7 linked regions of the Homo sapiens genome follow. The protein of the gene in region 7 purifies or fractionates together with the protein of the main gene of each other region. This does not show direct contact. Each region holds a gene or a part of one and is shown on either strand. Other genes may lie near its edges. The genes, in order: CD44, NAP1L1, TUBB6, NIPSNAP1, PRDX4, HADHA and PRKCZ.

Region 1 (3,500 bases), on a different chromosome or scaffold from region 7:
CTGCTGTGATGATGGTTAAATACACTGTGACTTGTTATCAACCAATCTTTAATGATTCTATTCTTCCATTAAAGTGCATGCTATTTAACAATTCTATGCCAAAGTGTTACCTCTGAGCATCCACTCTCAAAAATTTTGAGTGACTTTACCTAATTGGTCTCAAGAGAAAATCAATGGGCTTGGAATTTCTTCATGTTCCCTTATTATTCCACTATGATCAGTTTGTCAAAGGCAGAACCACAAACCATTCAAACATATTCATTTTTATCATGAAGCAACATAAAAAATCCTGTGCCCACATGGTATAATTGATAAATGACTCCTAAATGGAATTAAGTATCCTCATAAAAGTCCACTAAGAATTTCTTGATCAGATATTAACTAAATTTCCCACTGTGCCTCGATGATTGACCTTTGCAGCATCATGGGCTTTGAGGGGAAAAAAATCTTTCATTAAATATGCAGAACCCATTACCAGTCATCCTTGTGGTTGTCTGAAGTAGCACTTCCGGATTTGAATGGCTTGGGTTCCACTGGGTCCAGTCCTGGTTCTGTTTTGTGTGGTCAAAAGCCCGTGGTGTGGTTGAAACTGTGATAACGATGATTGAAGCAATTAGAAAAATGTTATTTCTTGAGCCTTCGCCACTTGTCCCGCACATAGTCTTGCTTCTGTAGGCTATGCAATGAATCATCTATACCAGGTTGTATAGATGGCTGCATGGAAATGGAGGGAAAGCGGAGGGTGACTTCAGCTTAATTCAGCCATATTGGTAAGCATCTCAGTGTCCTTTGCATTCTGTCATAGAATACCTTGGGGTTCAGAACATGAGATCTTCCAGATAAAACAGTCAAAGAAGCTGCAGCAGTAGGAAGGACAGCTTTGAAAACACCAGCCCTCCACCGAGGATAACCAAAGGCGCCATTTTGCCCATCCATGCAGTCTGTAGTATCCCTCTGCACTTGAAAGCCCAGGGACTTAGTCACTGTGTGCTGTTTGTAGATCCTCCGGGTGAAGAGGCAGATAACTGAAAGTTATACCATGATAATCACTTTATGTTGTTAGTAATTTCAGTGGGGAAAGGAATGCCTGAGCAGCTAGAGCTTTCCTATAGATGATTCTGAAAAAGAATACCTAGAATAGCCATATGTTTTAGCGATACATTTCTGAATATTTATCAAACACTATGGTATTCTCATCAAATACAAAATATGTCATGAGCAAGCCATTCATAGCCAGTGAAAGAAAATAAGACACCACAGGTAACCAGCCACCATCATAGCAGCACACTGGAAAGAAAGAGGCGTACATCCACCAGCACCCTGATATTGTCACCCAATCTGTTAGGGCTGGAATAAGAGATGCACCTAACAGAAGGATCATGACAAAATCTGAGTCAACATGTTTTGTGAAAGGTTATTTGCAAATCCATCCTAATTGTTTCAAACTTTATTTTGATACCCAAATAACGCAAAACTGTTTTCAGAACTATAATACTGTCAGCTCTATTTTACAAGTTATGAAAAATCAAGTTTAGAATCATTAACCACATTCTCAATAGGCCTGAAAAAGTGCTTATTATCAAGCAGTTATCACACCCCTCCAGAAGAAAGAGGGCATCATGTTGAATTATGTCCATAGGTGCTAAGCAGAAAAGAAAAAAAAAGAAAAGCAGAAATTGGAAAAATATGCCATAGAGATTTAAAAAATTAAAAAAAAAAAAAAAAAAAAAAAAAAACAACACCATGGGAAATTTTTCCCTGAAGCCTGACCATACAATTCATTTACAGGTAGATCTGTTTGGGTTACCACCCAAGGGAATTTAATTTCTTCAGTATCAAGACCACGTATTTACTGATGGGCCCATCTGCAAAGCTGGGCCACATGCTGAACACAGGAGACAGTATAATGTAAAACTCCAGTGTTTTTGATTATTTGGTTTTTGTTCTGAAGTTACCAAAAGGAATTTTCTTATTCCATAGATTAAGCTCTGGAGGGGTGTCGGGTCTAAAAAAAAAATCACTTAAAAGTTTAGATAGAAAATTCTAGTTCCTTTTGAGTATTTGTCATATCAATGTTATATACTCAGATGCCTTCAAGGCCTAAGCTATTTTTTTTTCTGGACCCTTTCTTCTCTGTCCATTTGAGGATGAAATTCTCAGATTTTAATGGAATGGATAGAACTTCAGTGAATTGGGAGAGCTCACACAGCACCCCAAAAGCCTTTTTTCTAAGGAAAAGCAGAACTGTGATGGAGTCAGGTTCAGGATTCTCAGCTCTGTTCAGCAAAATCTTAAGTCATTACAGGTATGTGTGGAAAACTCAGTAATCTGGCAGAATATTAGACCAACCTTTGCATGTTTTTAACTTTTTAAGGATATCTTTAAAGCTCAATTTCCATCTCTTTGTTCTCAAAAAGTTTTATAATTGTCAAAAATTTGGATACTATTATGTACCAATAGTGGTTTCATTATTTGCTTTTAATAAGTGGCAATGTCTTGCTAAAGCTAACCTGACATTTGCCCTTCCCTTCAAGGTCTTTCTGCTATATTGGTGTCCAGCTCATTTGTTAAAACTCTGGATTTGTTCCTTTGACCTCAGCTGGGCTTTGATTAACTAAGATAATTCTTGAGTTCTAGCTCCCATCATTTAAGCCTTTAGGGCCTTCAATTTAGGAACTTCCACAACTTTTTTTTTTTTTTTTTGAGATGGAGTCTGGCTCTGTCACCCAGGTTAGAGTGCTGGAGTGCAGTGGCGCGATCTCCTCCTGGGTTCACACCATTCTCCTGCCTCAGCCTCCCGAATAGCTAGGACTACAGGCACCCGCCACTACGCCTGGTTAATTTTTTGTATTTTTTAGTAGAGATGGGGTTTCACTGTGTTAGCCAGGATGGTCTCGATCTCCTGACCTCGTCATCTGCCCGCCTCGGCCTCCCAGGGTGCTGGGATTACAGGTGTGAGCCACCACGCCTGGCCTACAACTTTTAATTAATACCCTCCTCATCACATTCTTCAAGTCTATTGCTCCAACAGACCATGAGCTTCTGAAAAGCAAAGGCTCTGGCTCTTTTCATCTTCGTGTTTCCAGCACCTAGCACAGTAAGTACACAATGTACATTTTTTGTACTGTTTTAATGTCATTCTCTGATAAAGCCTGATCATTCAAAGACAATCTGTAGCAGTAGATCCCATAGATAAATAAAACAGGAAGAACATGAGACAAGAGAAATTTTGTGAGATATTTTCCCCACTTCTCAAAACATTCTATTTCTTCTTCCATAATCTCATCAAGATATAACTAAGGTATGATCATAGGTTCACCCATTTTTCACATTAACTACTTCTCAAGAGAGATACAATTTGGTATCACTCAGATTAATCAATAAGCCTTGCATAAATGGCTGTACTGTAATTGATTATTCTTACTGGTGCTGGAGATAAAATCTTCATCATCATCAATGCCTGATCCAGAAAAACTGAGGTGTCTGTCTCTTTCATCTTC
Region 2 (3,500 bases), on a different chromosome or scaffold from region 7:
TCCTTTTTCCTGATATGTCTATGCTCCCCTCCTTTTTCCTAATAACTTGTATGGGTGAGATATATGTAAAAGAAAAATCCAAGTAATCATTGTTCTCAGAATTAAGATGGTCTGTCCATGACTTCAGCAATGACAAGTCCAACACTTAACTTGGGTAAAGATTTAGGGTTGACAATATGATTTACATTTTGTTTATCAATTTACCCAGTTACATTTCTACTTTTGAAATATAGCCAGTGGATCAATGTATTTATATCTATTTGATTTTTATTTACTTTGAATCTACCTTTTGCTTCAGATAAAAAACCTGTCATTCACTAACTCCAATGCTTCAGTTTCAGTATGACAAAAGAAGTGTGACTTCCATTTTACTCTGATGCTATATAACTGATTTCTAACCTTTCAGCCTGCCTAGGGTAGTTAAAAGACGAGTGAATGCTCTCAAAAACCTGCAAGTTAAATGTGCACAGATAGAAGCCAAATTCTATGAGGAAGTTCACGATCTTGAAAGGAAGTATGCTGTTCTCTATCAGCCTCTATTTGATAAGGTAATGCTTTCTCCTACTTTGTTTAATTTAACATTCTAGAAGACGAATTCTAGAAACATAAGCAGACTTGGAAGAGGTTAATCTTTAGAACTCTCATTGAAATTGTTATTAGAGGCAGCACTTGGAGGAACTATCAATAATAGCAGTTAAAGTTGTGGTATGCATTTGTTAAATTTGTAAGACTTCTTAGTGAGAAACCACTGGTTTTAGCTTGGATGCCAGTGTTTTTATACAGCCTTTTTTTTTTAAATCATTTTAGCGATTTGAAATTATTAATGCAATTTATGAACCTACGGAAGAAGAATGTGAATGGAAACCAGATGAAGAAGATGAGATTTCGGTTAGTACCAACTTTATTTTGGTATGTTTTTAAGATGATAAAATCTTAGGACTTGTCAGAAATGTTAGCATTTAATGATGGAGTACAATATTATATAACCAGTTGTATTTTTTCATTTTTTAATTTTACGTCTTTATTACACGTTTTTCTATTACTTTATTTTTAAAAAACAGTCATTCAAGATTGTAATTTGCATGGCAATAAGCAGCGGTTTCATGGGTTCTAAGTTTCTTAAGTGTCCACAGCAGTTTAAAACACCACAAGTCTTATTTCCAATTTGCAGCACCTGACTTAAAGTTCGAATTCATCTGATGGAGCATTAAAACTGTCATTTTCTCTTGTGAAAAGACATAATTGCTATTTCCAGGACTGTATATTGAACATGGTTGTACATTATTTTTAATTGGTTAGTAGAATTTTACTCATGTAATTTATATCCAGAATAAGAACCTCTAGCATCTCTGAATGGCCTTCCTCTCAGAACGATGATGATTAAATGTCTAAAATGTATCTGGGGTGCCCCCACTTGACATTACCAAACATGTTTCCAAATAATCTTAGAAAATATGATTCTTTAAACATATGCATACCACATCTTTAAACATAAACATACCACACAGTGCACCATCACTTCCTTAACCATTTTCCAATTGTTCACTTATAACATTTGCAATTTTTTATTATAAATCATATTGTGATGAATACTTTCATCCATAAGTTTTATTGCAAGGCTTATTGTTTCTTCTAATGTCTTCTAATTTCAAAGAAGTGGCTTACTGGTTCAAACAGTGCACATACGTGGTTTTAAGGCTTTTAGTATACTTTACCAAATAATCTCCAGAATAGCTCCAACAACTCCTACCAACAGTATGTTATTGTGCCCATAGGGTGGACTTGATAACAGCAAAGCAAATTCAACCACAGATATATTAGATTCTCACCCATCTCAAAACTATCACATCAGAGAAGCAAGGAGACATATTATTGGTGAGGAAGCCAAATTCAAATTCTTTTAAAAAATCACTCAGCTTTAGATCAGTAAAATAATCAACAAAAATGGTCACCGCAAAGTCTACCGGGTTTTTCAAAAAATAAAAAGAGAGAAAGAGAAAGGCCAGGCGCAGTGGCTCATGCCTGTAATCCCAGCACTTTGGGAGGCCTAGGTGGGCCAATCACTAGGTCAGGAGTTCGAGACCAGCCTGGCCAACATGGTGAAATCCCATCTCTACTAAAAATACAAAATATTAGCTGGGTGTGGAGGCGGGTGCCTCTAATCCCACCTACTCGGGAGGCTCAGGCAGGAGAATCACTTGAACTCGGGAAGTCGAGGTTGCAGTGAGCCGAGATCGCACCACTGCGCTCCAGCCCAGGCGACAGTGTGAGACTCCGTCTCAAAAAAAAAAAAAAAAAGTACCAAATAACCAAAATTTTTTATTTGACTAAATTCTGTTCATGTATGAGCATGACAGTCTCTCCTGTTTATTTGACTTTGGCAATAAAAAAATAAGCAGCCTTGTACAGAACAGGGAAAATGCCAAGAACGAAGGCAGTCTACAGTTTTACTGTAGAATACATATATATATATATATATATATATATATATGTAGGCCTCTCTCCCTTTGGCCATATCTACTGTCAGTTCAGGCCATTAACTACAGACAAATTTTCAAATTCACTTCTTCTCCAAGATCTTCGATGCTGTCATCATCTACTTCTGTCTGTTTTTCCTGAATGACCTCAATTATGTCATCTGTAAAGTCTCCTTGAATGATAATTTCATCCTCCTCTGTTACTGAGGCACCACAGGAGAATTTTTGAGCAAAAAATCTTTGTGTGATTTAAGATCAATTTCAAAAGTTACAAGGCCACAACCCTTGTCACATATTTCTTTGCTCTGGGAATTTTGGCTATAGTAACCTTTTGTGGTACCGTCTTTGTTTTTTTGTTTTATTTGACCCCTTCCACCTCTCTTCTGTTTTTTCTTCTCCTCTTCTTCCCCTGCTGTTCCTTGACCTTGACAGATTCCAGCTTCTTGTTTGGGTGAATTTTCCACAGTAAGTTTTGCATATTCATTTGGAAAATTCTTCTCTAATCATTGTCTACATTTAGCAACATCAGGCATATATTCACAGTACTCTATTGGTAATGAACAGACTCCACAATAAAGGACTCAAAGTAGGTAATCAGCATCTAACTTGGCTCTGTTCCTTGGGTCTCCTTTGCAGTCAGCCCTATTGGAATCGGAAACGTCAGCAGCCATTTCACAAACCCAGGCAGTTGCACAGGCCCCGCCAGCTCTGCTCCCGCCACTGTTGCCAGCTGAGCCGACAAATGCAACTCGTTTCCCCGGCCAGGGCCTCCCTAGAGCATCAGTTGTATTTTTATACCTAGGAAATATTTTTCCTTTTTGTAAGAATGATAATGCAGATGAACTGTTATTCAACCTGGCACCACCATCTGTACTCAAAAAGTCATTATTTCCTTACATTTTATAGTTTTTTTGTTTAAGAGACAGGGACTTGCTGTGTTGCCCAGGCTGGAGTACACTGGCATGATCTTGGCTCACTGCAGCTCATTCCTGGGCCCAAGCTATTCTCCCACCTCAGCCTCCC
Region 3 (3,500 bases), on a different chromosome or scaffold from region 7:
TGTAAACTGCTACATTTATGCCTGTCTTTTACTGTTGTTTCATATCCTTCTTTGAAGAAGGTATATATTTTACATATGTAAAACTTTAAGATCTTTTTTATCTATAAAAATTCACAGATATGCTTGTAACTGTTTCCCAATCTCAGGAAGGACTCCTGCGAGGGAGGCAGGCAGGGAGGGAGGTGGGTTTTCACTGTATGGCCTTTCCAGCTACGCACCATGTGCACACACTGCCTATCAAAGAAGAGGTGTGATTTCTAAAAGGTGTATTAGTTGGAAATACATGAATTGTGTCTGGTAAAGCTTACTGAGACTACGGTAGACTCAGCCAACTATAATTCAGACTCAAGAAATCTTAGCTGTCCGCTCGCTCAGATTCTCACCAAAAATCCACTGAACCTCAAGGAGAAGACTGGGCAGAATTCTACAACAAGTGGGGGAGATAGGGCCATTTCTTCTCGCAGATTCTTACAGGGGTCTGTGACCCCAAGATGCTTGGGGGGGGTCCTTCATTTCAGATAGTAAAATGAAGACCCCCAGAGAAGGGAACTGATGCTGCCAGCGGGCACAGAGCTAGGGTCAGCTGCTCAGTTTCCCTCTCCCGGTGCGGTGCTCTTTCTTCCTGGCTATGTTAACTCTGTGACCTGGGAATGTGGTCCAGAAAGAAGCTGTGGCTGCTGAGTCTATACCTACTTAGTAAGTGAGTTACTCAATGCTGATCTGTATAAAGTAGGATCGTCCTTTTTCCTTTCTCACAATACAGAATATTAATGTTATCCAAGTCAGGTCTTTATTACAGTACTCAGAGAGCAGTCCCTCTGAATTGACAAGGATGACACTGGGCAAGAGGAGCTCTCAGACACCCCCCGTGGGCATGCAAATGGATTCAGCTCTTCTGGAGGCCAATCTGCAATCTCTATGTGTGAGCATTTCTGCAGAACAGATTCCTTGAACTGGAACTCTTGGATGGAAATTATTGATTTGCTCAATCTACTAAGTAGTTCTCTGAACAGCTGTTATTTTCCCAAACACCTTCACCAACACTAGGTCTTAGCAGCTTCTGAAATACTGGCCAATCTGGTGGGAGAATATTTTGTTTTAATTCCCTCTTGCCTCTAGTTAGTAGTAAATTTTGTCCCCAGGTATTTATAGCTTTTATTACAGTTGTGAATAGGATGTGTTCCCCAGTGATTATTGCTTTTAATGTGATTCATCTGTTCCAGTTTGCCTGGGACCCTGGCAGTTTTAGCACTCAAAGTCTAGTGTCCTGGGGAACACCTCCCAGTTCCAGGCAAATCAGAAAGATTGGTAACCTGATCGCAAAACTATTAATTTCTGAATATTTTATCTTGTGTCTGGCTCCCTTACTGAAGTCTTGTAAGTGCTAGTCATTTTTCAGCTGATAGCCTATCTGGAAACTCCAAGAGAATCATTTCATCAACAAATAACACTTTTGTCTTTTCCTTTACATGATTTGCATTTTTTCTTTCTCTGGTTTTTGTGCACTGGCTAAAGCCTTCAGAACATGGAATAATTGTAGAGACAATGGACATCTGTTTCTTATACCTAATTCTGCTGGAAATGCTTCTGTTTCACCAGGGAGTGTAATGTTGCTATGGGTTTCTGGTAGATAATCTGTAAATAAAGGAAGTTTCTTTCTACTTCCAGCTTACATAGAAGTTTTTTTGTCCTCTACAAATCAGGAACACATCCAAAACTTTATCTTTTTTTTTTTTTTTTTGAGATAGAATTTCACTCTTGTTGCCCAGGCTGGAGTGCAATGGTGCGATCTTGGTTCACCCCAACCTCCGCCTGCTGGGTTCAAGTGATTCTCCTGCCTCAGCCTCCCGAGTAGCTGGGATTACAGGCATGTGCCACCACACTGGGCTAATTTTGTATTTTTAGTAGAGATGGGGTTTCTCCATGTTGGTCAGGCTGGTCTCAAACTCCCGACCTCAGGTGATCCGCCCGCCTTGGCCTCCCAAAGTGCTGGGATTACAGGCGTTAGCTACTGCTCCTGGCTTCCAAAACTTTAATCTTTTTTAAAAAATTGTTTCCTGCTGGGAGTCAGAAAAAAAACCCACTTTTTTGGGTCATCTATTAAGATGTTGTCTTTAATCTATTAGTAGACTTCTTAATGTTGAACCATCCTTGCATTCCTGGGATGTTGCTAGTATTTCTCAAACACTTATTTTGTACTAGACATTCTAAGTGTTTATTTAATCCTTACATCTCACTAAGAGGTAGACAGTCCCACTTGTGATGAGGAAATTAAGTCACAAGTAAGTTAAATAAGTCTAAGGCCACATAGTGAGTGGAAGGGCCAAAATTTAAACCCAGGGAGTCTGGCAGCACAGCCAGACTCCTAACCATTACACTGTCTGCCTCTCAGTCTTACTTGGTCACAATGTGCTATTAATATATTTTTTAAAAAACACAACTACATTTGATATTCTAAGTATTTTATTTTGGATTTTTGCATCTATATTTTTAAGTAAGTTTGATATACAGCTTTCACTTGTATGTTCTAGTAGAAGCTACCTAGCCTCATAGGAAATGTTGGGAAGTTTTCCATCATTTTCTCTCTGGAATGGTTTGGATAATGGGATTGTCTGTTACCCTCTATTAAACTATCTCTTCCTGGTGCCTTTTGAGAAAGGGGTTAGAATGTAGATTTTTCATGATGTATTTGATTCCTACACCATAGTGCTTTTAAGCCAGAATCAGTCTTCAAATTCTTCACATTTTCTTGGAAGACACTGCTTTTCACAGGTATTGGAAATATGTTTGATTGAGTGAGGAATTTTTTTTTTTAGCAATAATGTCAATAGATATGTGGTCTCTAACATTAAAATAGGTGGGAAACTTCCAAATCTGCCACCTATCCTGTAGGTTCTACTTGATAACACTAATGGTACCACTTCATGTAATTTTATATAATTTTCTTCAGAAGTCTGCAGAAAGATATGTTTTACTATCATTTTTTAGGTGGAAGAAGCAAGAAAAAAAGGATTTACCTAATTCTGATAAAACCAATATAGGAACCAAAAACAAATGGCAAAATAACTTTATAATGATGGGGAAAAAGAAGCTAATGTCTAAAATTGTTTCTTGGTTTTTGTTTTTTTGTTTTTTGCTATTTTTGAGATGGAGTCTCGCTCTGTCACCCAGGTTGGAGTGCAGTAGTGCAATCTCAGCTCACTGCAACCTCTACCTCCCGGGTTCCAGCGATTCTCCTGCCTCAGCCTCCCGAGTAGCTGGGACTACAGGCACGTGCCACCATGCCCGGCTAATTTTTTGTATTTTTAGTAGAGACAGGGTTTCACCGTGTCAGCCAGGATGGTCTTGATCTCCTGACCTCGTGATCCGCTCGTCTTGGCCTCCCAAAGTGGTGGGATTACAGGCATGAGCCACCGCGCCTGGCTTGATTTTTGTTTTTTAATCAAGAACTACCAGTAGAAGAATTTCATTTAGAGATATAGAGGTTCCTTCCCACCAAA
Region 4 (3,500 bases), on a different chromosome or scaffold from region 7:
TTTTTTTGTTTTTTGTTTTTTTTGAGACAGGGTCTCACTCTGTCTTCCAGGCTGGAGTGCAGTGGCAGGTTCTCGGCTCAATGCAACCTCCGCCTCCTGGGTTCAAGTGATTCTTGTGCCTCAGCCTCCCGAGTAGCTGGGATTACAGGCTTGAGTTACCATGCCTGGCTAATTTTTTTTATTTTTAGTAGAGACGAGGTTTCACCATGTTGCCGAGACTGGTCTCCAACTCCTGGCCTCAATTGATCCACATACCTCAACTTCATAGTGCTGGGATTACAGGTGTAAGCCACTGTGCTTGTCTTGTTTTTTATTATTTTTATTTTTTATTTTTGAGATAGGGTCTCACTGTTGCCCAGGCTGGAGTGCAATGGCACAATCATGGCTCCCTGCAGCCTCAAACTCCTGGGATCAAGTGATCCTCCCACCTCAGCCTTCCAAGTAGCTGGGACTACAGATGGGAAACACCACGTCCTGCTAATTTTTAAAAAATGTTTTGTAGAGATGGGGTCTCCCTATGTTGCCCAGGCTGGTCTTAAACTACTGACCTCAAGTGATCCTCTTGCCTTGGCCTCCCAAAGTACTAGGATTTCAGTTGTGAGCCACCATACCCAGCTGGGACCACACTGAATAGCAAGGCTCCTGCTAACTCCTTCAGCAGACACATTCTCCCTCATACCACCTGGTAAGTGATCACTGTAAACTTCTCAATGGCAAGGACAGGCTCTTGTTCATTTATGTGCCCCTCAACCACCTACCTACCACAGTTCCCGGCACACAGTGAGGGCTTAATTAACACCCACTGACTCTAGGTGGTTTCAGGTTCCTAGCAAAGTGGCAAACACCTTGAGCAAAAAACTTGTTCAAGGCTGGGCACAGTAGCTCATGCCTATGATCCCAGCACTTTGGAAGGCTGAGGTGGGAGGACTGCTTGAGCCCAGGAGTTTGAGACCTGCCTGGGTGACATAGTAAGACTGCATCTCTACAAAAACAAAAACCTTATTCAAAAACATTTCCTGCATGCTTCCTTTGTGACAGACACTGGAGAAAGCACTTTTCATAAATGAGTTTGTGGGCCAGATGTGGTGGCTCATGCCTGTAATCACAGCACTTTGGGAGGCCGAGGCAGGCGGATCACCTGAGGTCAGGAGTTCGAGACCAGCTTGGCCAACATGATAAAACCCCGTCTCTACTAAAAATACAAAATTAGCTGGACATGGTGACACACGCCTGTAATCCCAGCTACTCGGGAGGCTGAGGCAGGAGAATGGCTTGAACCTGGGAGGCGGAGGCTACAGTGAGCCAAGATCATGCCACTGCACTCCACCCTGGGTGACAGAGTGAGACTGTGTCTCAAAAATAAATAAAATAAAATAAAATATAAAATAATAAAATAGTTTGTAGAATCTTCCGTTATAGCCCTCTGACAGAAGCACTATCACCATCACTATCTTACAGACGAGGGAACAGCCTCAGCGAGGTAAAGAACCGTGCCCAAGGTCACAATGGGCGTTTGCTAATCCACATCTCCTAGGCAGAGGCGTGGCCCTGGCTATGTTATCATCCCCTAGAGTACTCACCTAGGCCTGCTGGTATCCTATGGAGTGTGCCACTTGGATAGAAACCCATTAACTCATTGTCTTAAAAGTGAGTTCCCCATCACTGGAGGTAATCAAGAAAGACTAGATCTCCTTGCAGAGAGGATTCCATCCTCAGACAGGGTTCTCAGCAGAAGACCTCCAAAGGCTTCACTCACCTGTATAGTAGACATTTTCATCCCAGCCTCTCTTCCTCCAGGCAGCGTTTCGAGTCTCCTCCCGAGACTGCAGGTCTTTATAGGCTGTGAGAAAGGCACAGGCTCATTCCTCAGGCACAGAGGACTGGATCCCTTACCCAGCACAGGGCCCTCTTCCCACTGTCCCCTAAACCCTGCACTGCTGTCTCCTCCTCCCTAGATGCCTCCCTCAGACTATTAGCAAACACTGTCTGCTTTAATCATCCATCCAATCAGTACATATGTTAATATTGCCTACATTTATATTTCTAGTCGCAAACACTCCCAAGGGCTCCAGACTCCTATATCCATCTACTGCCTACTTGACATCTCTACTTTGGTGTGTCAGCATTTTTAGTGTTAACACTTCCGGCTAGGTGCGGTGGCTCATGCCTATAATCCCAGCACTTTGGGAGGCCGAGGCTGGTGGACTGCTTGAGGCCAGGAGTTCGAGGCCAGTCTGGCCAACATAGCGAAACTCTGTACTAAAAATAGAAAAATTAGTTGGGCATGGTACTGCATGCCTGTAATCCCAGCTACTCAGGAGCGTGAGGCACGAGAATCACTTGAACTTGGGAAGCGGAGGTTGCAGTGAGCTGAGATCACACTACTGCACTCCAGCCTAGGTGACAGAGCAAGACTGTGTCTCAAAGAAAAAAAAAAAAAGTAACAATTCCAAGGGCCAAAATTACGCTCCTGACCCCACTGACTTGCTCCTTCCCTAGACCTCCCAGACTCAGGAGATGACACACAGCAGCTCAAGCACGAGCCTGGGAGCTCTTCTGGAATGCCCTTCTCCTTCTCTTGCCCCACACAGACAATTCATCCACAAGTCCTGTTGGTTCCACCTCTAGACTAACAAATCTTCTGTGGACTTCTCAGCATCCCACTGCCCCATCCCCTCCTGCCTGAACTAGAGTAATGGCTTCCTGAAGCCCTGCTTTCTCTCTTGCTCGCCTACCAAGCACTCTTAACAAAGCAGACAGCAGCCAGAGAAATCATACTAGAACAAAAATCAGGTCGTGTCACTGCTATTTGAAACAAATAGTCTCTCATTGCATTTACAATAAATCCCAACTCATTCCCCCTCTCCTGTTCCATCTCCCCACATTCTTCCCTACTCACTCCACACTGGCCTCCTTGCCACACCTCAAAACCCCGAAGGCCTTTCCCCACCACAGGGCCTTTGCATGTGCTGCTCTGTCTACTTGGAATGCTTTTGCCTAGCAATTCACAGCTGGCTCCTTCTCATCCTTTAGCTCTCAGCTTACATTTTACTTCCTCAGAGAGGCATTATTTGTCTACCTAGACCAATGTAGATCCCCTATGTTTTTCACCATCATCTCTCCCTGCCTTTTTTTTTTTTCTTCTTTTTTTTTGAGACGGAGTCTCGCTCTGTTGCCAGGCTGGAGTGCAATGGCGTGATCTCAGCTCACTGCAACCTCCACCTCCCGGGTTCAACTGATTCTCCTGCCTCATCCTCCCGAGTATCTGGGACTACAGGCATGCGCCACCACGCCCAGCTAATTTTTGTATTTTTAGTAGAGATGGGGTTTCACCATATTGGCCAGGATGGTCTCGATCTCTTGACCTTGTGATTTGCCCACCTCGGCCTCCCAAAGTGTCGTGATTATACACTTGAGCCACCGCTCCCAGACTCCTTGCCTATTTTCTATAAATATTATTTGTAATCTGAAATTGATCTTTTTGTGACTTTACATCTAAG
Region 5 (3,500 bases), on a different chromosome or scaffold from region 7:
CCATAAATGGTGGCTGTTACAGAGAAGTATAAGCCTTACTTTCTAGGACCCTTAGCCAAACTTAGAAGCAAGCATTGACTTCAGTGTTTGTAAGGGGTCTGAAAGTATAAGTGCTATCTGAATGTGTTAACAGAGCATGAAGGTGCATTAGTATCTAAGTGTGTTGGCTAAAATTACTGTACGCCCTTACAAGAGAGCAGCATGAACTGTTCAGTTTCCATTGGGTCACTTGAAACCTGTTCAAGGGAGTCTTCTTTCAAAGCCCTCTAGGAAAATGATCCCATGGTCTGGGATTTTACACTTCTGGCCTGACATATTTGTACATTCCCTCCTCATTTTGTGTAGCCTCATCTGCAGCAGGTCCTCCATGTGTATGTCAGAAGCTGGACAAACTAGTACATCTGGAAGACTGCCATTAGAGAAAGGAAAATCTAATTATTTGAAATGTAGGAAGTTGACAACTTGAAGCGGGACTATAGTGAAGTATCCAGGAGGGTTTAGTGCAGGGTAGAATTTAAGGGGTCTGTGAGCATGAATAGGGGAAAAAAGTATTTATTTTCACTAATCCCCATCTGAAATTTAGTGTTTCCTTCTATTATGAATGTCAGCAACAAACTACACTATCTTCAGCAGCACTTGCTTGTACCTTTCACCAATAGAATCACTTATTTTCTTGCTACATATGGTTATCGCAGGTATCCTGAAACACCATTTTCACTCATCATTATCTTACGTAGTTGTCAGATTACAACTAGATCTTGCAGTTTTGAAGTGTTATAGAGCACATGTATTATGATATCACCAATTTTTTTTAATATTTTTATAATTGCATTTAAATACAATTGGTTTCTTTTGTAATTCTATGTATTTTCCTTTTTGCATTCAATAACACTCTTTTAAGAAGTCTGTAAGCTTCACCAGACTGCCAAAGAGATCTAAAGGTAGCCCTGATTTTTAGTGATTTTCTAAAGATGTCCTTCTACCATTCCACCAACTTTCTCAGTGTTACAGAACATCATGTATTTTATTTTCTTAGTTTCCAAGCCAGCGCCCTACTGGGAAGGAACAGCTGTGATCGATGGAGAATTTAAGGAGCTGAAGTTAACTGATTATCGTGGGAAATACTTGGTTTTCTTCTTCTACCCACTTGATTTGTAAGTAATACATGTAAATAGCTAGTAAAATCTCAGTCTTTATCAATTATTTTTCAGGAGTATCAAACAAATTATTTTGTTCAGCTCTTGGTTTTTAAAAAGGCAAGCTGAAGTAAAGAAATGTATTTAAAAAGGTAACATCTACCATATATTTCAGAGTCATAACACACCGACCTCAATACTTATGTCTACATGATTATGTTATAATGGAATAATTAGAGGAAAGCTACAATATATTCATTAAGCTATACCTACTAAGGCAAGAAAATGGACTGATAATATATTAGAAAGCATTTAATAGCAAGACCTATGCCATAATTCTTTTTACTGTATCTCTCTTGATTAGAAAATTAATTCTGTAATCCCAGCACTTTGGGAGGCCAAGGCAGGTGGATTACAAGGTCAAGAGATCGAGACCATCCTGGCCAACATGGTAAAACCCCATCTCTACTAAAAATGCAAAAATTAGCTGGGCGTGGTGGTACGCGCCTGTAGTCCCAGCTACTCGGGAGGCTGAGGCAGGAGAATTGCTTGAACCCTGGAGGCGGAGGTTGCAGTAAGCTGAGATAGTGCCACTGCACTCCAGCCTGGCGACAGCGAGACTCCATCTCAAAAAGAAAAGAAAAAGAAAATTAAGCCATTTTCTCTAGTGATACCATGTAACTGTGGTTTTTCCATTTTTATTCTTTGCTGCATCTGTTGCTTTTCTGGGATTTGAACATTTTGCTGAAAATATTATATACTGCTTAAGGAATAAGGAATAACACCTGTGTATATGTTATGGTTATTGTGGGGTTTCTCGTCTTTTTTTAACTCTGTGACAGTGAGCGTTTTTGTATATGGTCAGAAAGTTGACTAAAAGTAAATACCCTTACAGCTTTATTCACGTTGAGGATTTAATTTTATTTTACAAAACACTATTTTGAGTGTTTTTCAAAATTCATGAAAGTGAGAAGAGACCAAAAAGAGTTATGTCAATTTTTATCTTTTATTCTCTTGGAACTTACTTTTTGGTTACAACAAATAACTAGAAGTTTCCTCCTCTATCTTTGCCACTGTGCCTTTTTCCATTAGGACTAATCTGGAACTACATAGATCAAATTTAAACTTGCAGGGAGGGTATACTTAAGCTCATTGCTATAGGTTGTTTCTAGGCCAGGGATTAACAAATTTTTTCTGCTGGATTTGGCCTATTGACCTATTTGCCAACCCCTGCTCTAAGCCACAAAGGAAGAATTCTCATGAAAATTATTACATTGAGACTAAAGTTATGAGTCTGCATAATATATAATCTTTTAAATTATAAGAACTTGCTTCTTTCTAATCAACTCATATTGTGACTTGATTTTTTTAAGTATAGCTTAATTTCTAATAGAAACCAGAAGTAGAAATTTCAGTAGACATAAAAAATGACAGGCCTTCTAAATTCATGTTGTTATAAAACCAGAAGGTTAACATGTATGTTAAATATATACGACTAACACCCTGAATTTGGAAGTTAGTCTAATGTAGCAGAAAAATATGTTCTGTGTTTCTCCATTGTTATTCATAACTCCATAATGGGTAAGAGATAGTTAATTGGAGCATGTTGTTAGCAATGGTCTTCTGGGACAAGGAGCTAAGATAGCCTCTTCCTGTTTTCATGTAATGCTGGACTGTGCCTGGTTAGAGAAGGAAGAATTCTGGGGCATTTGCCACAGTCTACAAGGAGGAAAGTTACAAACGTAACCCTTCAGTTTCCTGCCAAAACTTTTTCTGTCTTCACTAAGAAGTTGGTCAAATGTATCTCTAGGTAGCATTCCTTGAAATAAGAAGAAAGGCAGAGGCTGGGTGCAGTGGCTCACGCCTGTAATCCCAGCACTTTGGGAGGCCAACATGGGCGGATCACCTGAGGTCAGGAGTTCTAGACCAGCCTGGCCAACAAGGTGAAACCCCGTCTCTACTGAAAATACAAACAAAATTACCCGGGCGTGGTGGTGGGCGTTTGTAGTCCCAGTTACTCAGCAGGCTGAGGCAGGAGAATTGCTTGAACCCGGGAGGCGGAGGTTGCAGTGAGCTGAGATCGCGCCACTGCACTCCAGCCTGGGTGACAGAGTGAGACCCTGCCACAAAAAAAAAAAAAAAGGAAGGCTGAGGCTGACCATTCCTACCCTTTAGAAAATATTAAAAATACATTTTATAGCCCAGGTTTCCAGGGACATCATCCGAGATTAGAACTGTCTACTTGGACATGACAGTGCTGTACCTGAATACCTGAAACATGTTAAAATCCTGTATTGGTATCTGGTAGGAACTTGTGCCCTAACTAAGTCTATGTTTTTCAAACTTTCTTGACCATGTCTCACA
Region 6 (3,500 bases), on a different chromosome or scaffold from region 7:
GCGGGCGCCTGTAGTCCCAGCTACTTGGGAGGCTGAGGCAGGAGAACAGTGTGAAACCGGGAGGTGGAGCTTGCAGTGAGCCGAGATCGCGCCACTGCACTCCAGCCTGGGCGACAGAGTGAGACTCTGTCTCAAAAAAAAAAAAAAAAATTCTGGATCCAGAAAACATAAATGTGTTGCATAATTTATTTTTACTTCTGTAATAAATCATTAAATTACAAAGCTTGGTACAAGGGAAAATCATCTTTGGTAAATTACTTCACTATCAGATTAAACATTTCACTATCAGGTAGTTAACAGCAATAAAAATGACGCAAAAGAAAAGCTTCCAGGTTGTTTAGAGAAATCTAAAACATTTTAACAGATCCCACTAATGAATAAAAATGACCAGGTAGGCCAGGCATGGTGGCTCATGCCTGTAATCCCAGCACTTTGAGAGGCCAAGGCAGGTGGATCACCTGAGGTCAGGAGTTCGAGACCAGGCTGGTCAACATGGTGAAACCGCGTCTCTACTAAAAATACAAAAATTAGCTGGGCGTGGTGCTGCATTCCTGTAGTCCTGGCTACTCGGGAGGCTGAGGCGAGAGAATCACTGGAACCTGGGAGGTGGAGGTTGCAGTGGGCCGAGATCGCACCACTGTACTCCAGCCTGGACAGCAGAGGGAGACTCCGTCTCAAAAATAAATAAGTAAATAAAAATGATCAGGTGCAATGATGTTCCACTCAATGTCCTTTAATTTCAGTTTGTTTCATTTGCTATTTTGTGAACACACTTAGGATATGGATTTTGTACTTTTGACCAAGGATAACTAGTATATTCTGTAATTTTATACACTGAGAGTTGCTCAGCTGGCCTCATAGAAGCTACATGTATTTTCCTCTGGATATAGGTAGCTACTGCCAGGTACATCAGTGTCTTGTTAGACTTTATAAATGTTCTGTTTAATGTTAATTTTTTAGAAGACCCAAAATTATCTTATCAAGTGGTTTTTCTTCTAGCTGAATTATTTGTGCCTAACAAGAGACTGATTACTACACATAAATAATTACACTTTCAGTACAAATTACTAAACCTACAATGCTGGCTATCATTGTCTAAAATACAAAGAACATAACAAATACCCATATTTTAATGGAATTGACAACTTAACATTTTAACCTATTAAACTGACACTAAAATATCATTTCCCCTCCTTATGTATGTGTAAACAATTGTAAATAAGTTAATGTAGGCATGCATTCCACCATTTAGCAGAGGAAAAGAAAATACTAGCTGCATCTGTAAAGCTGCCTTTAACAATCAAGTCCTACCACCCACTTCATTTCCCCAAAGCAGCCATCTTCATGTTTGTAGTGTCTCCTTCCAGACCAACTACGATTGTGTCCATAAATAGTATCAAGAATTATTCCATGTTTGGTTTTAAAACATTTATAGAAACTATATACTGTATGAAACATTCTGCAATTTGCTTTTCTTTTAACTTAACCTTATGTTTTTGAGTTCTAACATCATATTGTGGATCTAGTTAATTCCTTTTACCTGTTTTGTAGTATTCTATTGTGTGAATAGTCCACATTTTACTTACCCATTTTCCTACTGACTGACATTTGGTTTTAAATTCTTCATTATTTCACACTACACAGGACCAAACATCCTTGTACACTGGTTCTTATAAACAAGGGGTGAGATTTCTCTAGATCACATGATGTGTGTGTGTGTGTGTGTGTATATATATATATATATACTCTGTGTGTGTGTGTGTGTGTGTGTGTGTGTGTGTGTGTGTGTATATACTTTTTTTTTTTAAGACAGTCTCACTCTGTCACCCAGGCTGGAGTGCAGTGGTGTGATCTCGGCTCACTGCAACCTCTGCCTCCCAGGTTCAAGGGATTTTCGTGCCACAGCCTCCTGAGTAGCTGAGATTACAAGCGTGTGCCACCATGCCTAATTTTTGTATTTTTAGTGGAGACAGGGTTTCACCATGTTGGCCAGGCTGGTCTTGAGCTCTTGGCCTCATGTGATCCACCTGCCTCGGCCTCCCAAAGTGCTGGGATTACAGGCAAGAACCACCACACCCAGCCTGATACGTACATTTTCAATTTTACAGGCCTGTGTCACTGTGCCCAGCACTTCTACTTTCTTTTAAAAGGAGAAATTATTAGGCCTAAGAAACACACTATTAACCAAGATAAAAGGTGACTTCAAGTTTCCTAAAACTTACTTGATATCAGCACCTGCAATAAAGCAGCCTGGCTTTGATGAGATAAGGACGGCACTTCTGATTTGATCACTAGCCCAGATTTCATTCATAACTTCTGAGAACTCTGAATGTAGCTCTTTACTCAGTGTATTTACCTGCCAAAGGGAAATATATACAGGTAAGGGTTTAAATTTGAAGCACTGGATGTACGTACCACCATCAAATGCTATTTTGATTATAAGAAATATACTTATCCGGCAGAAATATACTGTTAGAAGAGAGTAAGAAATATCATTCTCCCAGCAAGTCAGTAGCTTTCTATTCAGGCAGCTTTGGCCCACTACAAGCACCCCTTCCTTTAAAAATAGGTCTTCTCAAAGGAGAAACTCAGGGTCATCCTCAGAGTTTGAATCATATGTAGGCTATAAACAAATAGGTCTACAAACATTTATTGGCATGGAAAAAATCTGCATAATGTTAAGAAAAAAATGAAATACAAATAAGACATATAGGCCAGGCATGGTGGCTCATCCCTGTAATCCCTGCACTTTGGGAGGCCAAGGTGGGCGGATCACTTGAGTTCAGGAGTTCGAGACCAGCCTGGGCAACATAATGGAACCTTGCCTCTACAGAAAATACAAAAATTAGCCGGGCCTGACAGCACACGCCTATAGTCCCAGCTACTCAGGAGGCTTAGGTGGGAGGATCACCTGAGCCTGGGGAGGCTGAAGCTGCACTAACCTGTGACTGTGCCACTGCACTCCAGCCTAGGCAACAGAATGAGACCCTATCTTCAAAAAAAACCATATAGTATGATCTTAGTTTTGTAAATATTATTCATTGAAACTGAATTAAATGTGATTATCCCATGGAAGATACCAAGAAAAAGATGTGGTTATCTTTAGGTTTGAATTATGAATGTTTATTATTTTCTTCTTTATAATTTTTTATAGTTGAAAAATTTTCTACCATTGACATATATTACTTTTGTGTTCAGGAAAAATGTCCAACCTAAGAAAATTCTGAAAAAATATCTTAAGCTTGAATCATTGGTTAGTGAGTGCTAAAATTTACTCTAGTAAAGGGGAATGGCTCTTATTTACCTTAATTTGTGATAGTTGTCAACTGCTTCCATCTAGGTCTTATTACATCTAAGCCTCTGGCTATAAGTTTGTTGTTGTTGTTTTTTAGAGAGACAAGGTCTTGCTCTGTGGCCCAGGCTGGAGTGCAGTGGTGCAATCATAGCTCACTGTAACCTTGAATTCCTAGGCTTAAGTGATCTTTCCACCTCAGCCTTCA
Region 7 (3,500 bases):
GTAGAGACGGGGTTTCACCGTGTTAGCCAGGATGGTCTCAGTCTCCTGACCTCGTGATCTGCCTGCCTCAGCCTCCCAAAGTGCTGGGATTACAGATGTGAGCCACCGCGCCCGGCCTTTTCTTTGACATTTTATTAACCCAAATGAAAACTGCTCTTAACAAAGAACCCGTAAACCACTCAGAGGCTCCAGTGGCCAGCGTAGGGCCCGCGGCGCATGTGGACAGAGGGGACAGCCCCACCAGCCACCTCACCTGCCCGGTGCTCCCTAGGCCCGGCTCCAGGCTCACAGCTGTCCTCAGCTTTAAGTTCAAAGCCCCATGATGAGCTGACGCATGGGAGATGTGATTGTGATCATTTCCACTTTGTCTTTAGGTGGGCGTGGGCTCCTCCCCGGTACTGCTGGGGGTCTGCAGGGCGTCTGGGGCCTGGGAATGTGGTTCCAGCGCTGTGGCCAGCCGGTCACGTCTTTGTCTCTGTGTCCACTTCTGGCGTAGCTTGGGCTCCTTGCCAGGCGTCTGGCCATGGACGATTGAGTCCAAGATGGGACCAAAGCTCGAAACCACCCATGGATTTCTGACAGATCCATCATTCTCCTGGACACCGGGCTACCTGGTTACAACACTTAATTTTCTTCGCCCTTTATATCAATGAGGCTCTAAATTTAAAGACTAGGCCGGGTGCGGTGGCTCACAACTGTAATCCCAGCACTTTGGGAGGTCAAGGTGGGAGGATCGCTTCAGCCTAGGAGTTCAAGACCAACCTGGGCAACATAGTGAGACCCCCCCCTCTCCAAAACTTGTTTTATTTTTTTGAGACAGAGTCTGGCTCTGTCCCCAGGCTGGAGTGCAGTGGCACTATCTCTGTTCACTGCAACCTCCACCTCCCAGATATAAGCGATTGTCCTGCCTCAGCCTCCCGAGTAGCTGGGACTACAGGCATGTGCCACCACACTTGGCTAATTTTTTTTTTTTTTTAGTTGGAGTCTCGCTCTGTCGCCCAGGCTGGAGTGCAGTGACGCGATCTCAGCTCAATGCAACCTCCGCCTCCCGGGTTCAAGCAATTCTTCTGCCTCACCCTCCCAAGTAGCTGGGACTACAGGCATGTGTCATCACGCCTGGCTAATGTTTTGTATTTTTAGTAGAGACGGAGTTTCACCATGTTAGCCAAGATGGTCTCGATCTCCTGACCTCGTGATCCACCCGCCTCAGCCTCCCAAAGTGCTGGGATTACAGGCGTGAGCCACGGTGCCCGGCCTAATTTTTGTATTTTTAGTAGAGATGGGGTCTCGCCATGTTGGCCAGGCTGTTCTCAAACTCCTGACCTTAGGTGATCTGCCTGCCTCAGCTTCCTGAAGTGTTGGGATTACAGGCGTGAGCCACGGTGCCCGGCCCCAATTTTTTTTTTTTTTTTTTTTTTTGATATTCAGACGTGGTGGTGCACCTGTAGTCCCAGTTACTCGGGAGGCTGAGGTGGGAGGATTCCTTGAGCACAGGAGGTAGAGGCTACAGTGAACTGTGATTATTCCACTGCACTCTAGCCTGAGTGATGGGGCGAAACCCTGTGTCAGATAAATAAATTCATAGATGTGCCTAATCTAGTCCTTTTTATTGTGGTTGTGATAGTAAGCACATTTTGCCTCTCTATGTGGAAAGATACAGTGGCTTAAAAATTCACATTGTTTTCTAGATAAAAGAAAAATAGGGCTGGGTTCAGTGGCACACACTTGTAATCCCAGCACTTTGGGAGGCCGAGGCAGGTGGATCACTTGAGGTCAGGAGTTCAAGACCAGCCTGACCAACATGGTGAAACCCCATCTCTACTATAAATACAAAAATTAGCCGGGCGTGGTGGTGTACACTTGTAATCCCAGCTACTTGGGAGGCTGAGGCAGGAGAACTGCTGGAACCCGAGAGGTGGAGGTTGCAGTGAGCTGAGATTGTGCCACTGAGCTCCAGCCTGGGCACAGAGTGAGACTCCATCTGAAAAAAACCAACAAAAAACAAAAAATGTTTGTTTTTTTAAAGTTTCAATACTTTTATGTGTATACACACACACATAAAAAAGTAGAGATGGGGTTTCGTCATGTTGGCCAGGCTGGTCTTGAACTCCTGGCCTGAAGCCATCCTCTCATCTCGGCCTCCCAAAGTGCTGGGATTGCAGGCGTGAGCCATCATGTCCAGCCAAGTTTTAATACTTTCTAAGCACCTATTTTAATAATTTATTGTGGAAGCCCAGGATATATGTTAAAATAATTTTGAACTCTGTCTTGAGTATGAAGAAGTGGAATCTAAAGTGCTTTTAAAAGTCAGTGTTCAAAGTAATTGCATTTCTTTCCCATTTTTATATAGTTTAAAAATACAAATCAGTAGCTTCCTCTGATGGCTTTGCTGTCCAGGTCCCTCTGATTGCCTTTTACTCTAAGTTTTTCCGTGGGTTTTAAAGTCGGAGCCTGGCCTACGTAGACGCACGGGGTTTTGCGTCTCCCAGGAGCGGGCTCTCATTGGCAGTGCCACGTGCGCCTTGCGTGAAGTCCACGTGCTCAGCCTGACTGAGGCGGGACTTCCTCCGTGAGACTGTTGAGTGGCAGCCGCAGGGTCTTGACGCTGTCTCTTTCTCTCTCTTGTCCAGTTTTCCCGAGCACCCCTGAGCAGCCTGGCCTGCCATGTCCGGGAGAAGACAGTGAGTACTGGGGTTTCCTACGCCGGTCTCGCATGTTACGGGGTTGAACTGTTGATCCGTTGTGCCACGGAGGTGGCAGTGGTGCCGTTTTCGGAGGTTCACCCTCGTGGAGCGTCAGGGCAGGAGCAGCCGTGGTGACCGCAGGTGGGGTTTTCACTGCAGCTGCTGCCTGTGCGTGTTCTGGCTGACAGCACCACATGGCGGGGGACTCGCTTGGCTGGTTGGTAGCATGAGAAGTCCAGGGGTGCCCTGCCGTCTCCCTAGGAGGGAGGGGCCAGGTGGGAGGCTGGACACTGCTCCTTTGTGGCTGCCTCAGCTCACGACCACCCCTAGGCCAGTCGTCTGCTCCTCCTGGTCCCTGCTGGCCCCTGAGCTGGTGTGGGGGCTCCGTTCATCCCACACTGGCTCCATTGTTGGGAGAGGAAGGAGAGTGAGTCCCGGGGGCTGTGGCTTCAGAGGGAAGCTTCTGACCTCACTTCCTACTGCATCCCGGAGACTGTTGGGCCCTGAGCAGGTGGCTACGCTGCTCTCGGGCCGCGCATCCCATGGCTGTGCTTGGTGGGGTTCCACCCCCACTCTCCAGACCCCACACGGCCTCCAGCATCCGTGCCATGCCTTGTTCGTTGTGTGGGCAGGAGCTCCTGGACCGAGGCCGCTGCCTGTCCAGCGCAGGGCACGTGGCTCAGTGCCCTTCAGGCAGGGCTTCCCCCACCCCTGCTGCCAGGGCACACACCTCGCTGGCCTCAGGCTGGATGCTGGGTGTTGGCAGTGCCCTGTGTTGGGCGGGAACTGGGGGTGGGAGCAGATTCAGGCCAAGAG

Evidence for each region.
Region 1: the proteins of PRKCZ (region 7) and CD44 purify together in Homo sapiens (affinity purification with western blotting; 2 studies listed by BioGRID and IntAct, with this or other methods). This does not show direct contact.
Region 2: the proteins of PRKCZ (region 7) and NAP1L1 purify together in Homo sapiens (affinity purification with mass spectrometry; 2 studies listed by BioGRID and IntAct, with this or other methods). This does not show direct contact.
Region 3: the proteins of PRKCZ (region 7) and TUBB6 purify together in Homo sapiens (affinity purification with mass spectrometry; 2 studies listed by BioGRID and IntAct, with this or other methods). This does not show direct contact.
Region 4: the proteins of PRKCZ (region 7) and NIPSNAP1 purify together in Homo sapiens (affinity purification with mass spectrometry; 2 studies listed by BioGRID and IntAct, with this or other methods). This does not show direct contact.
Region 5: the proteins of PRKCZ (region 7) and PRDX4 purify together in Homo sapiens (affinity purification with mass spectrometry; 2 studies listed by BioGRID and IntAct, with this or other methods). This does not show direct contact.
Region 6: the proteins of PRKCZ (region 7) and HADHA purify together in Homo sapiens (affinity purification with mass spectrometry; 2 studies listed by BioGRID and IntAct, with this or other methods). This does not show direct contact.

Annotation. Positions count from the first base shown.
Region 1 is NC_000011.10:35,198,171-35,201,670, reverse strand, and holds part of CD44 (CD44 antigen isoform 1 precursor), read right to left. Parts: coding exon 3,425-3,500; intron 1,026-3,424; coding exon of another isoform or gene 754-1,025; exon of another isoform or gene 590-753; coding exon 476-589; exon of another isoform or gene 4-475; coding exon of another isoform or gene 1-3. UniProt on the Homo sapiens protein: Cell-surface receptor that plays a role in cell-cell interactions, cell adhesion and migration, helping them to sense and respond to changes in the tissue microenvironment.
Region 2 is NC_000012.12:76,057,186-76,060,685, reverse strand, and holds part of NAP1L1 (nucleosome assembly protein 1-like 1), read left to right. Parts: intron 1-406; coding exon 407-548; intron 549-807; coding exon 808-888; intron 889-3,500. UniProt on the Homo sapiens protein: Histone chaperone that plays a role in the nuclear import of H2A-H2B and nucleosome assembly.
Region 3 is NC_000018.10:12,311,241-12,314,740, reverse strand, and holds part of TUBB6 (tubulin beta-6 chain), read right to left. Parts: intron 1-3,500. UniProt on the Homo sapiens protein: Tubulin is the major constituent of microtubules, a cylinder consisting of laterally associated linear protofilaments composed of alpha- and beta-tubulin heterodimers.
Region 4 is NC_000022.11:29,557,114-29,560,613, forward strand, and holds part of NIPSNAP1 (protein NipSnap homolog 1), read right to left. Parts: intron 1,841-3,500; coding exon 1,757-1,840; intron 1-1,756.
Region 5 is NC_000023.11:23,670,493-23,673,992, forward strand, and holds part of PRDX4 (peroxiredoxin-4 precursor), read left to right. Parts: intron 1-1,036; coding exon 1,037-1,154; intron 1,155-3,500. UniProt on the Homo sapiens protein: Thiol-specific peroxidase that catalyzes the reduction of hydrogen peroxide and organic hydroperoxides to water and alcohols, respectively.
Region 6 is NC_000002.12:26,234,633-26,238,132, forward strand, and holds part of HADHA (trifunctional enzyme subunit alpha, mitochondrial precursor), read right to left. Parts: intron 2,357-3,500; coding exon 2,223-2,356; intron 1-2,222. UniProt on the Homo sapiens protein: Mitochondrial trifunctional enzyme catalyzes the last three of the four reactions of the mitochondrial beta-oxidation pathway.
Region 7 is NC_000001.11:2,056,911-2,060,410, forward strand, and holds part of PRKCZ (protein kinase C zeta type), read left to right. Parts: intron 1-2,630; coding exon 2,631-2,681; intron 2,682-3,500. UniProt on the Homo sapiens protein: Calcium- and diacylglycerol-independent serine/threonine-protein kinase that functions in phosphatidylinositol 3-kinase (PI3K) pathway and mitogen-activated protein (MAP) kinase cascade, and is involved in NF-kappa-B activation, mitogenic signaling, cell proliferation, cell polarity, inflammatory response and maintenance of long-term potentiation (LTP).